Linked DNA regions of Homo sapiens. The protein of the gene in region 2 purifies or fractionates together with the protein of the main gene of each other region. This does not show direct contact. Each region holds a gene or a part of one and is shown on either strand. Other genes may lie near its edges.

The links. The genes of interacting proteins can lie anywhere in the genome.
Region 1: the proteins of INSL3 (region 2) and NSUN4 purify together in Homo sapiens (affinity purification with mass spectrometry; 3 studies listed by BioGRID and IntAct, with this or other methods). This does not show direct contact.

The regions. Positions count from the first base shown.
Region 1 is NC_000001.11:46,350,196-46,355,105, forward strand, and holds part of NSUN4 (5-cytosine rRNA methyltransferase NSUN4), read left to right. Parts: intron 1-2,672; coding exon 2,673-2,833; intron 2,834-4,910. UniProt on the Homo sapiens protein: Mitochondrial RNA cytosine C(5)-methyltransferase that methylates cytosine to 5-methylcytosine (m5C) in various RNAs, such as rRNAs, mRNAs and some long non-coding RNAs (lncRNAs).
Region 2 is NC_000019.10:17,818,168-17,823,536, forward strand, and holds the start of INSL3 (insulin-like 3 isoform 2 precursor), read right to left. Parts: upstream 3,353-5,369; 5' UTR 3,340-3,352; coding exon 3,150-3,339; intron 2,324-3,149; coding exon of another isoform or gene 2,229-2,323; intron 1-2,228. UniProt on the Homo sapiens protein: Seems to play a role in testicular function. May be a trophic hormone with a role in testicular descent in fetal life. Is a ligand for LGR8 receptor.

The DNA of each region.
Region 1 (4,910 bases), on a different chromosome or scaffold from region 2:
AGCAGAGAATACAATTTTTACTTCTTTGAGTGCCCTCAAAAATGGAGACATTGGCCGGGGGGCGGTGACTCACGCCTGTAATCCCAGCACAAGCTAGGAGGCTGAGGCAGGTGGAATACTTGAGTCCAGGAGTTCGAGACTAGCCTGGGCAACATAGACCTCATCTTCATTAAAATAAAAAAAAAGGAGACATTTATTTATGGGATTACTAAGCTGGTTCATAGTAGTGACCACTATTAGATAAGGTGGACACTTGCATCTCGCATTCTTTACCATTCCCACCCTACCTTGTTGTTCTTTGACTCAGAGGCCAGGTATCAAGTGTCATTTATCATCAAGCTTGCAATATTTTTCTCATAGTAGCACTAAGAGCAAAGTGAGATATTTCTTGAACTCATGTCTACCAATAAAGAGAAAATGAAAGGTAGATGGTAAATCAGAATTAGGTTTGGTTGCATTTGATAGAAAACCTAACTAATTGGCTTAAAGAGGAAACATTAATTTATCTCTTACATAAGAGAAGCTGAGATATAGGCACTCCAGGTATGGAGGCTCCACAATTATCAGGGACTTAAGCTCCCTTTTTCCTTTTGCAACGTATTTTGTTGCTAGTGTCAGCCTTAGCCTCCCTCCCTTTAAGAGGGAGAAGATATGTAACTAGTAAAGCTCTAAGGCAAGGCCTCATGGTCCAGAATGACTGCTGGAAGTCCAGCCATCACATCCATATTTGAGTCAAGAGGAAAGGATTGGGCAAAAGAGACTCATTTCATCTCCCAATTATGTCAGCCTTTTAAAAATATCTTCCCAGAATTCCTATCCAATACTTATGCCTACAACTATGACCAAAAGTTAGTCATATAGTCATACTTAGTTGTAAAAGAAAGGCTTAGCCGGGTGTGGTGGCTCACACCTGTAATCCCAGCACTTTGGGAGGCCGACGCAGGCAGATCACCTGAGGTCGGGAGTTCAAGACCAGCCTGACCAACATGGAGAAACCCCGTCTCTACTAAAAATACAAAATTTGCCGGCGTGGTGGCGCATGCCTGTAATCCCAGCTACTCGGGAGGCTGAGGCAGGAGAATCGCTTGAACCCGGGAGGCGGAGGTTATGGTAAGCCGAGATCGCGCCATTGCACTCTAGCCTGGGCAACAAGAGCGAAACTAAAGAAAGGTTGAGAAATGTAGTCTTTTGGGGCAATTTTCCCCTTCCAAAAAATTGGGGTTCTATTAATAAGGAGGAAGAGGAGAATGATTTTGGCTAAATAAACTGTAGTATCTACCAAAGATGAAGAGAGCCATAGGTTTCCAGAATAGTGGGAGAGCATATTTTTTTAGAAATAAATATTCTTGGCTGGGCATGGTGGCCCACACCCATCATCCCAGCACTTTGGGAGGCTGAGGTGGGAGAATTGCTTGAGGCCAGGAATTCAAGACCTACCTGGGCAACATAGTGAGACCCAGTCTCTTTTTTTTTTTTTTTTTTTTTTTGAGATGGAGCCTTGCTCTGTCGCCCAGGCTGGAATGCAGTGGCGCCATCTCGGCTCACTGCAAGCTCTGCCTCCCGGGTTCACGCCTTTCCCCTGCCTCAGCCTCCCGAGTAGCTGGGACTACAGGTACCCACCCCCATGCCCGGCTAATTTTTTGTATTTTTAGTAGAGACGGGGTTTCACCATGTTAGCCAGGATGGTCTCGATCTCCTGACCTTGTGATCCGCCTGCCTTGTCCTCCCAAAGTGCTGGGATTACAGGTGTGAGCCACCGTGCCTGGCCTTCCAGTCTCTTTTTAAAAAATTATTTAAATATATTTTTATTTTTGTAGAAATGAGGTATCGCTATGTTGCCCAGGCTGGTCTTGAACTCCTGGGCTGAAGCAATCCACCTACTTTGGCGTCCTCCCAAAGTGCTGGGATGAGAGGCGTGAGCCACTATGCCCAGACTCAGAGACCCTGTCTTTAAAAAAAAAAAAAAAGAATGTGGCTGGGTGCAGTGGCTCACACCTGTAATCCTAGCACTTTGGGAGGCCAAGGCAGGCGGGATCACCTGAGGTCAGGAGTTCAAGACCAGCCTGGCCAACATGGTGAAATGCTGTCTCTACTAAAAATGCAAAAATTAGCCGGGTATAGTGGTGCACACCCATAGTCCCAGCTACTCAGGAGGCTAAGGCATGATAATCACTTGAACCCAGGAGGTGGAGGTTGCAGTGAGCTGAGAGTGTGCCACTGAACTCCAGCCTGGGCGACAGAATGAGACTCTGTCTTAAAAAAAAAACAAAAGGAAAGAGAGGGAGAGAAAGAAAAGGAGAGAAAGGAAAGGGAGGAAAGGGGAGAGGGAAAGGAGAGAAGAAAGGCGAAAGTAATGGGGAAAGGAAAAGGGGAAAGGGGAAAGAAAGGGGAGAAAGGGGAGAGAGGACAGGAAAGGAGAAAGGAAAGGAGTCTTACTTGGTCTGCTTTATTCATTGACTTAAATAACTTTGATACTTTCTGGCCCATTTAGGTGTTTGCCATTGTACCCCCACTCAGAATGACTGATGCTGTGCCATGCACATAATAAATGTTCCTGATGCTGGGGTTTGCATTGGCTGGGACTACCTGAGAATTGGTCTGACTCCATCAGCGCCATTGCTGGTGGAATGTTTCATTGGGTCATGGCCTCTGAAGTATCTTTATTTCCATAGGCAATCTTGCTGCCAATGATCTCTCCCCGTCCCGAATAGCCAGACTACAGAAGATCCTTCACAGCTATGTGCCTGAAGAGATCAGGGATGGAAATCAAGTTCGAGTTACCTCATGGGATGGCAGGAAATGGGGAGAACTGGAGGGGGACACCTATGACCGGGTGAGTGATTCTTGATTTAGGACATGCATCCAGCTTAATGCGGCCTCCCCATCCTGGTTCTAGGGCCTGAGGGGTTAGGATCCAGCCCCTATGTTTGAGCATGTAGAGCTGTTTCTGGACTGGCCAGTTCTACATTGGTGATTTGACCAAAAGAAAAATCAGCTTAGATGACTGGTTATTATCTCTATTAAAGATAGTTGGCAGCAAAAAAGAATTTGAAACTATTTGAGTAGGGGAAAAATTTACTAGGCTTACTTTATTTCTCAAGTCACTTGGTTGCTCAGAAAGCCTCATGAAGGTAAGTAAGAATAAGCTCATTTATTTATTTTTGAATGTTAGTACAGCACATGGTACAAAATTCAGAAGGCACAAAAGAGTATCCAATGAAAAGTGAGTTTTTCTCATCTGGCCTGTAGCCCCCTACTTCCCCACCCTATAGATAACGATTGTTTCTTTTTTTTTTTTGAGACGGAGTTTCGCTTTTGTTGCCCAGGCTGGAGTGCAATGGCGCGATCTCTGCTCACTGCAGCCTCCGCCTCCTGGGTTCAAGCAATTCTCTGCCTCAGCCTCCCGAGTAGCTGGGATTACAAGCGCCCACCACCACGCCCGGCTAATTTTTGTATTTTTTTTAGTAGAGACGGGGCTTCACCATCTTGGCCAGGCTGGTCTTGACCTCCTGACCTCGTGATCCACCCGCCTCGGCCTCCCAAAGTGCTAGGATTACAGGCGTGAGCCACTGCGCCCAGCCGGTAGTATATTATATTATACTCACTATTCTGAACTTTGTATTTTTTTATTTAATAATGTGTCCTGGGGTTAAATCCTTTTTTAATTTTGTTGACATTGTGGAAGTATAGTTGTTGAATAACAGTTTACATCCATTTAAGATTTTGATAGCGATTGCTAAATTTCTCTGTGGAGGTTAAACCAGTTTCACTCCTACTGGTAATGAATGAGTACTGATTTCCCACATGCTGCCAATATTGGTGCTATCAAACTTAATTTTTTTGCCAAATGGATAGTATCTAATTTACAATCTCTTATTAATCATGTTGAAAATCTCCATATTAATTTTTTTAAAGTTTTTTTTTTTTGAGTGGCAGGTTTTCACTTTGTCACCCAGGCTGGAGTACAGTGGTGTGAACACGGCTCACTGCAGCCTCAACCTCCTGGGCTCAAGGGGTCCTCCTGCCTCAGTTTCCCGAGTAGCTGGGACTAGAGTGTGCCACCATGCCCAGCAAATGATTTTTTGTAGAGACGGGGTCTCACTATGTTGCCCAGGCTGGCCTCGAACTCCTGGGCTTGAGCAGTCCTCCCACCTTGTCCTCCCAAAGTGCTGGGATTATAGGTGTGAGCCACTGTGCTGGGCCAGTCTCTTCATGTTTTTAAGTTATTTATTTTATTTTAAATGGCATACTCTAAAAATATTTGTTTAGAACACATATTTCTAAAAATATATAAAATATATAGCTGTTGTCTCTGTGTTGTCACCTGATTTACCTAATCTGTCTAGTTCTCACCATTCTGCCTCAACCACTCTAAGAAACTGAAAGAAAGACCAAGGCTTATGGAATCTTAGATAGGCTTGAGACTTGCTTTCTGCCTGTGTAGGAATCCCCTACTCATTTTTTTCTTTTTTTTTTTTGAGACAGTTTTGCTCTTGTTGCCCAGGCTGGAGTGCAGTGGCGCAATCTTGGCTCACTGCAGCCTCCGCCTCCTGGGTTCAAGCCTGGGTTCAAAGTTCGATTCTCTTGCCTCAGCCTCCCAGGCAGCTGGGATTACAGGTGTGTGCCACCACGCCTGACTAATTTTGTATTTTTTTAGTAGAGACGGGGTTTCACCATGTTGGTCAGACTGGTCTCGAACACCTGACCTCAAGTGATCCATTAGCCTCAGCCTCCCAAAGTGCTGGGATTATAGGCGTGAGCCACTGCGCCCGGCCTATTCATTTTTCTTGATATGAGAGCAGTGGAACATGATGGAGAGAGCATGACCTCTCCTGTCAGCCTAACCAGTTTCTACATTACAGGGGTGCTACTTACTAACCTTAGGCAAACTGTTGATCTTGCTGAACTTC
Region 2 (5,369 bases):
CTTGCAGACCACCTCCCCTGGATCCCTAACACCGCAAGTGGAGTGGCACACAGAGACATGTGGACACGTGTTAACACATCTGCACAAACTTGTCGTATATCCCTGCACCAGGGCCAGGACTAGGGTACAGACAGGGAGGCACGAAGCCATCAGGATATTTTTTTGAGGCCAGGCACCGTGGCTCACACCTGTCATCCCAGCATTTTGGGAAGCCTAGGTGGGTGCGTTGCTTGAGCCCAGGAGTTCATGACCAGCCTTGGCAATACAGCAAAACCTCATCTCTGCAGAAAATACAAAAATTAGCTGGGCATAATTCTGCATGCCTGTAGTCCCAGCTACTTGGGAGGCTGAGGTGGGAGGATCGCTTGAGCCTGGGAAGGCAAGGCTGCAGTGACCCGAGATCGTGCCACTGCACTCCAGCCTGAGTGACAGAGCAAGACTGTCTCAAAAGAAAAAAAAAAGGACTTATGAAAATTTAGAGGGTTGTTTACCCTCTACCCAATCTGCAGTTTACAATTGACACCAGTGGTTCTCAAACCAGGGTGATTTTGTTTCCAGGGGATACTTGTCTGGGGACAGTTTTAGATGTCACAACTTGGATGGGGTGTGAGGCTATTCATGGCATTAGGGGGCAGAAGACAGAGATGTTATCTAACACCCTACAATATACAGGACAGCCCCACTACCATATACATCCCCAAATGTCAGCATCAGCTTTTTTTTTTTGAGATGGAGTCTCGCTCTGTTGCCAAGCTGGAGTGCAGTGGCGTGATCTTGGCTCACTGCAACCTCCACCTCCCGGGTTCAAGTGATTCTCCTGCCTCAGCCTCCTGAGTAGCTGAGACTACAGGTGTGCGCCACAACGCCCGGCTAATTTTTGTATTTTTAGTAGAGACGAGGTTTCGCCACGTTGGCCAGGCTGGTCTCACCAGCCTGAGAGTAGCTAGTCACAGCTACTCAGGAGGCTGAGGTGGGCAGATTGCTTGAGTCTGGGAGGCAGAGGTTGCAATGAGCCGAGATCACGCCACTGCACTCCAGCCTGGGTGATAGAGTGAGACCCTGTCTCAAAATATATATATATAATAATAATAATATTAATATTTTTCCCTTTTTTGAGACAAGGGTCTCTGTCTCAGGCTGAGTCTCATATTGCCCAGGTTGGTCTCAAACTCCTGGCCTCAAGTGATCTTCCCTCCTAGCCTCCTGAGTAGCAGGGATTACAGGCATGAGCCACCACATCCAGCAAGGTAAGTATTTTAATGCAATACTTTTAAAATAAAATTTAAAATATTTGTAAAAAGGCCAGGCACAGCGGCTCACGCTTGTAATCCCAACACTTTGGGAGGCTGAGGCGGGCAGATCACCTGAGGTCAGGAGTTCAAGACCAGCCTGGCCCGGGCACAGTGGCTCATGCCTGTAATCCCAGCCCTTTGGGAGGCCGAGGCAGGTGGATCACGAGATCAGGAGATTGAGACCATCCTTGCTAACATGGTGAAACCCCATCTCTACTAAAAATACAAAAAATTTAGCTGGGCTTGGTGGCAGGCGCCTGCAGTCCCAGCTACTCAGGAGGCTGAGGCAGGAGAATGGCGTGAAGCCGGGAGACGGAGCTTGCAGTGAGCCGAGATCACACCACTGCACTCCAGCCTGGGGGACAGAGCGAGACTCAATGTCAAAACAAAACAAAACAAAACAAAACAAGACCAGACTGGCCAACATGGTGAAACCTGTTGTTTCACCTGTTCACCTGTCTCTACTAAAAATACAAAAAAAAAAAAAAATCAGCTGTGCATGGTAGTGGGTGACCTGGGGAGTGGCCTGTAATCCCAGCTACTTGGAAGGCTGAGGCAGGAGAATTGCTTGAACTCAGGAGGCGGAGGTTGCAGTGAGCTGAGATCGTGCCACTGCACTTCAGCCCGGGTGACAGAGCGAGACTCCATCTCAAACAAACAAACAAAATACAAAAATTAGCCAGGTGTGGTGGTGCGTGCCCGCAGTCCCAGCTACTCTGGAGGCTGAGGCAGGAAAATTGCTGGAACCCGGGAGGCAGAGGTTGCAGTGAGACGAGATCACGTCACAGCACTCTGGTTTGGGTGACAGAGCGAGGCTATGTCTCAAAATAAATAAATAAAAATAAAATAATAAAATAAAGTAACATAATTGTGAAAAGCAATACTTTTCAAAAGCAATACTTTTAAATACTTTTAAAGCTGGACACAGTGACTCACATCGCTAATCCCAACACTTTGGAAGGTCAAGGTGGGAGGATTACTTGAGCTCAGGAGTTTGAGACCAGCCTGGGAAACAGAGTGAGACTCCCTCTCTACGAAAAAGAAAAAAAAATTAGCTGGGTGTGGTGGCAGCACCTGTATCCCAGCCACTCCAGAGGCTGAGGCAGGAGGATGGTTTGAGCCCAGGAGGTTGAGCCTGCAGTGAGCCGAGATCTCACCACTGCACTCCAGCCTGGGCGTCAGAGTGAGACCCTGTCTCAAAAAACAAACAAACAAAGCAAAATTAAGGCAAAAATTCATGAAGATCAAAATATTGAAATTTTAAGACAGGATCTCACCATGTACTTGCAAGAGCCTACCTCTCCTGCCTCACTCTGTTTCTGGCCCCTCAGGGGGACTCATGCTCTGAGGACTTTCTTTTTTTTTTTTTTTTGAGACGGAGTTTCACTCTGTCGCCCAGGCTGGAGTGCAATGGCATGATATCGGCCCACTGCAACCTCTGCCTTCCGGGTTCAAGCGATTCTCCTGCCTTGGCCTCCCAAGTAGCTGGGATTACAGATGTGCATCATTATCCCCGGCTAATTTTTTTAAAAATTATTTTTAGTAGAGATGGGGTTTCACCATTTTGGCCAGGCTGGTCTCGAACTCCTGACCTCTGGGGATCCACCCGCCTCAGCCTCCCAAAGTGCTGGGATTGCAGGCGTGAGCCACCACGCCTGGCTAACGGCTCTGGGGACTTTCACACGCGCGTTCACACACACTCCAGTGCGGACCCACGATCTGTGCACGCAGCCGGCAGGTGAGCCCTGGGCACATGCATGCAAACCTGCCCACCTCCCTGCACGTGTGCATCTGCGCCTACGTGCACCTGCCCCACCTCGGCTTCCCAGAGCGCTGTCCCTGCCCGTCCCCACTCACGGTCGCCTCCGGTCGCAGGCCTCCTGGCTTCGGTGGACCAGCGGGGGCCCCCGCACACGCGCACTAGCGCGCGTACGAAGTGGTGGCCGCACAACTTCTCACGCATCTCTGGGGTGGGCGCGGGGCCCAACGCGAACACCAGGGCAGGGCCCAGCAGCACCAGCGCCCAGGCGGGCAGACGGGGGTCCATGGTGGTGGGTGGCGCCGGGGCCAAGCGGGGACCCCCTTTATAGGCGCCTGGGCCGTCCCAGCTGGGGGCCTTGGAGAAGGGACAGAACATTCTTCAGGACCGCCCAGGAAAAAGGTCAAGGGTGGGGTTAGTGCCAGAGCCTTTCTCCCAGGGCCAGGGCCTTGGATGTACTTCTCCCAGAGGGAGCACTGGGCAACGAGTCTTTCTTTTTTATTTTTTTCTTCTTTTTTTTTGAGATGGAGTCTCACTCTGTCACCCAGGTTGGAGTGCAGTGACTTGATCTCGGCTCACTGCAACTTCTGACACCCGGGTTCAAGCGATTCTCCTGCCTCAGCCTCCTGAGTAGCTGGGATTACAGGTGCGCACCACTATGCCTGGCTAATTTTTTTTTTTTTATTTTTTATTTTTAGTAGAGACTGGGGTTCGCCATGTTGGCCAGGCTGGTCTCCAACTCCTGACCTCAAGCGATCCATCTGCCTCGGCCTCCCAAAATGCTGGGATTACAGGCATGAGCTGTGCCTGGACTATTATTATTTTTATTATTATTATTGAGACAAAGTCTTGCTCTGTCTTCCAGGCTGGAGTGCAGTGATGCGATCTCGGCTCACTGCAACCTCCACCTCCTGGGTTCAAGTGATTCTCCCACCTCAGCCTCCCAAGTAGCTGGGATTACAGGTGTAAGCCACCACGCCCAGCCACCTATTTTTATTTTTTATTTTTGAGATGAGTTCTTGCTCTGTTACCCTGGCTGGAGTGCAGTGGCACGATATGGGCTCACTGCCACCTCCCTATCCCTGACTCAAGCAATTCTCCCACCTCAGCCTCCTGAGTAGCTGGGACTACAGGCCCACGCCACCACACCCGGCTAATTTTTTGTATTTTTTTTGTAGAGATGGGGTTTTGCCATGTTGCCCAGGCTGGTCTCAAACTCCTGGACTCAAGTCATCTTCCCGCCTCAGCCTCCCAAAGTCCTGGGATCACAGGCGAGAGCGACCACACCAGGGTATTTATTCATTTTTGACATAGGATCTCTCTGGGTTGGCCTGTAATGGCAGGATCATAGCTCACTGTAACCTCATTCCCCTGGGCTCAAGCGATCCTTCAGCCTCTGCCTCCTGAGTAGCTGGGACTACAGGCCTGCAATACAATGCCCAGCTAATTTTTAATTTTTTAATTTTTATTTTTATCTTTTTAGACAGAGTCTTACTCTGTCACCCAGGCTGGAGTACAGTGGTGCGATCTCGACTCACTGCAACCTTTGCTTCCTGGGTTCAAGCGATTCTCCTGCCTCAGCCTCCTGAGTAGCTGGGATTACAGGTGCCCACCACCAAGCCTGGCTAATTTTTGTATTTTTTAGCAGAGACGGGGTTTCACCATGTTGGCCAGGCTGATCTCAAACTCCTGACCTCAAGTGATCCACCCGCCTCGGCCTCCCAAAGTGCTGGGATTACAGGCGTGCACCAACGCGCCCGGCCATTTTTAATTTTTTAATTGTAGAGGCAGGGGTCTTGCTATGTTGCCCAGGCTCATCTAGAACTCAAGTGGTTCTCCCTACTCGGCCTTCCAAAATGCTGGGATTACAGGTGTGAGGCACCACACACGGCCAAGTCTTCGCTATTGTCTTAACCAGTTTAAAGAGATGAAATAGATCAACTGAAAAGTAATAATCCTGCCTTTTCTGGGGGGCAGGGGGGAAGACAGCGGGCATCTTCCAAGACCAGAAATGTTCAGAATTTTGTTGTTTCTATTACTGTACAAATGAGAAAACTGAGGCACACAGGCCAGGTGCAGTGGCTCATGCCTGTAATGCAAGCACTTTGGGAAGATGGGGCAGGTGGATCACTTGAGGTCAAGAGTTCGAGACCAGCCTGCCCAATATGGTGAAACTCTGTCTCTACTAAAAATACAAAAATTAGCCAGATGTGGTGGTGCATGCCTATAATCCCAGCTACTCGGGAGGCTGAGGCAGGAGAATCACTTGAACCCAGGAGGTGGAGATTGCAGTGAGCCGAGATGGTGCCGCTGCACAC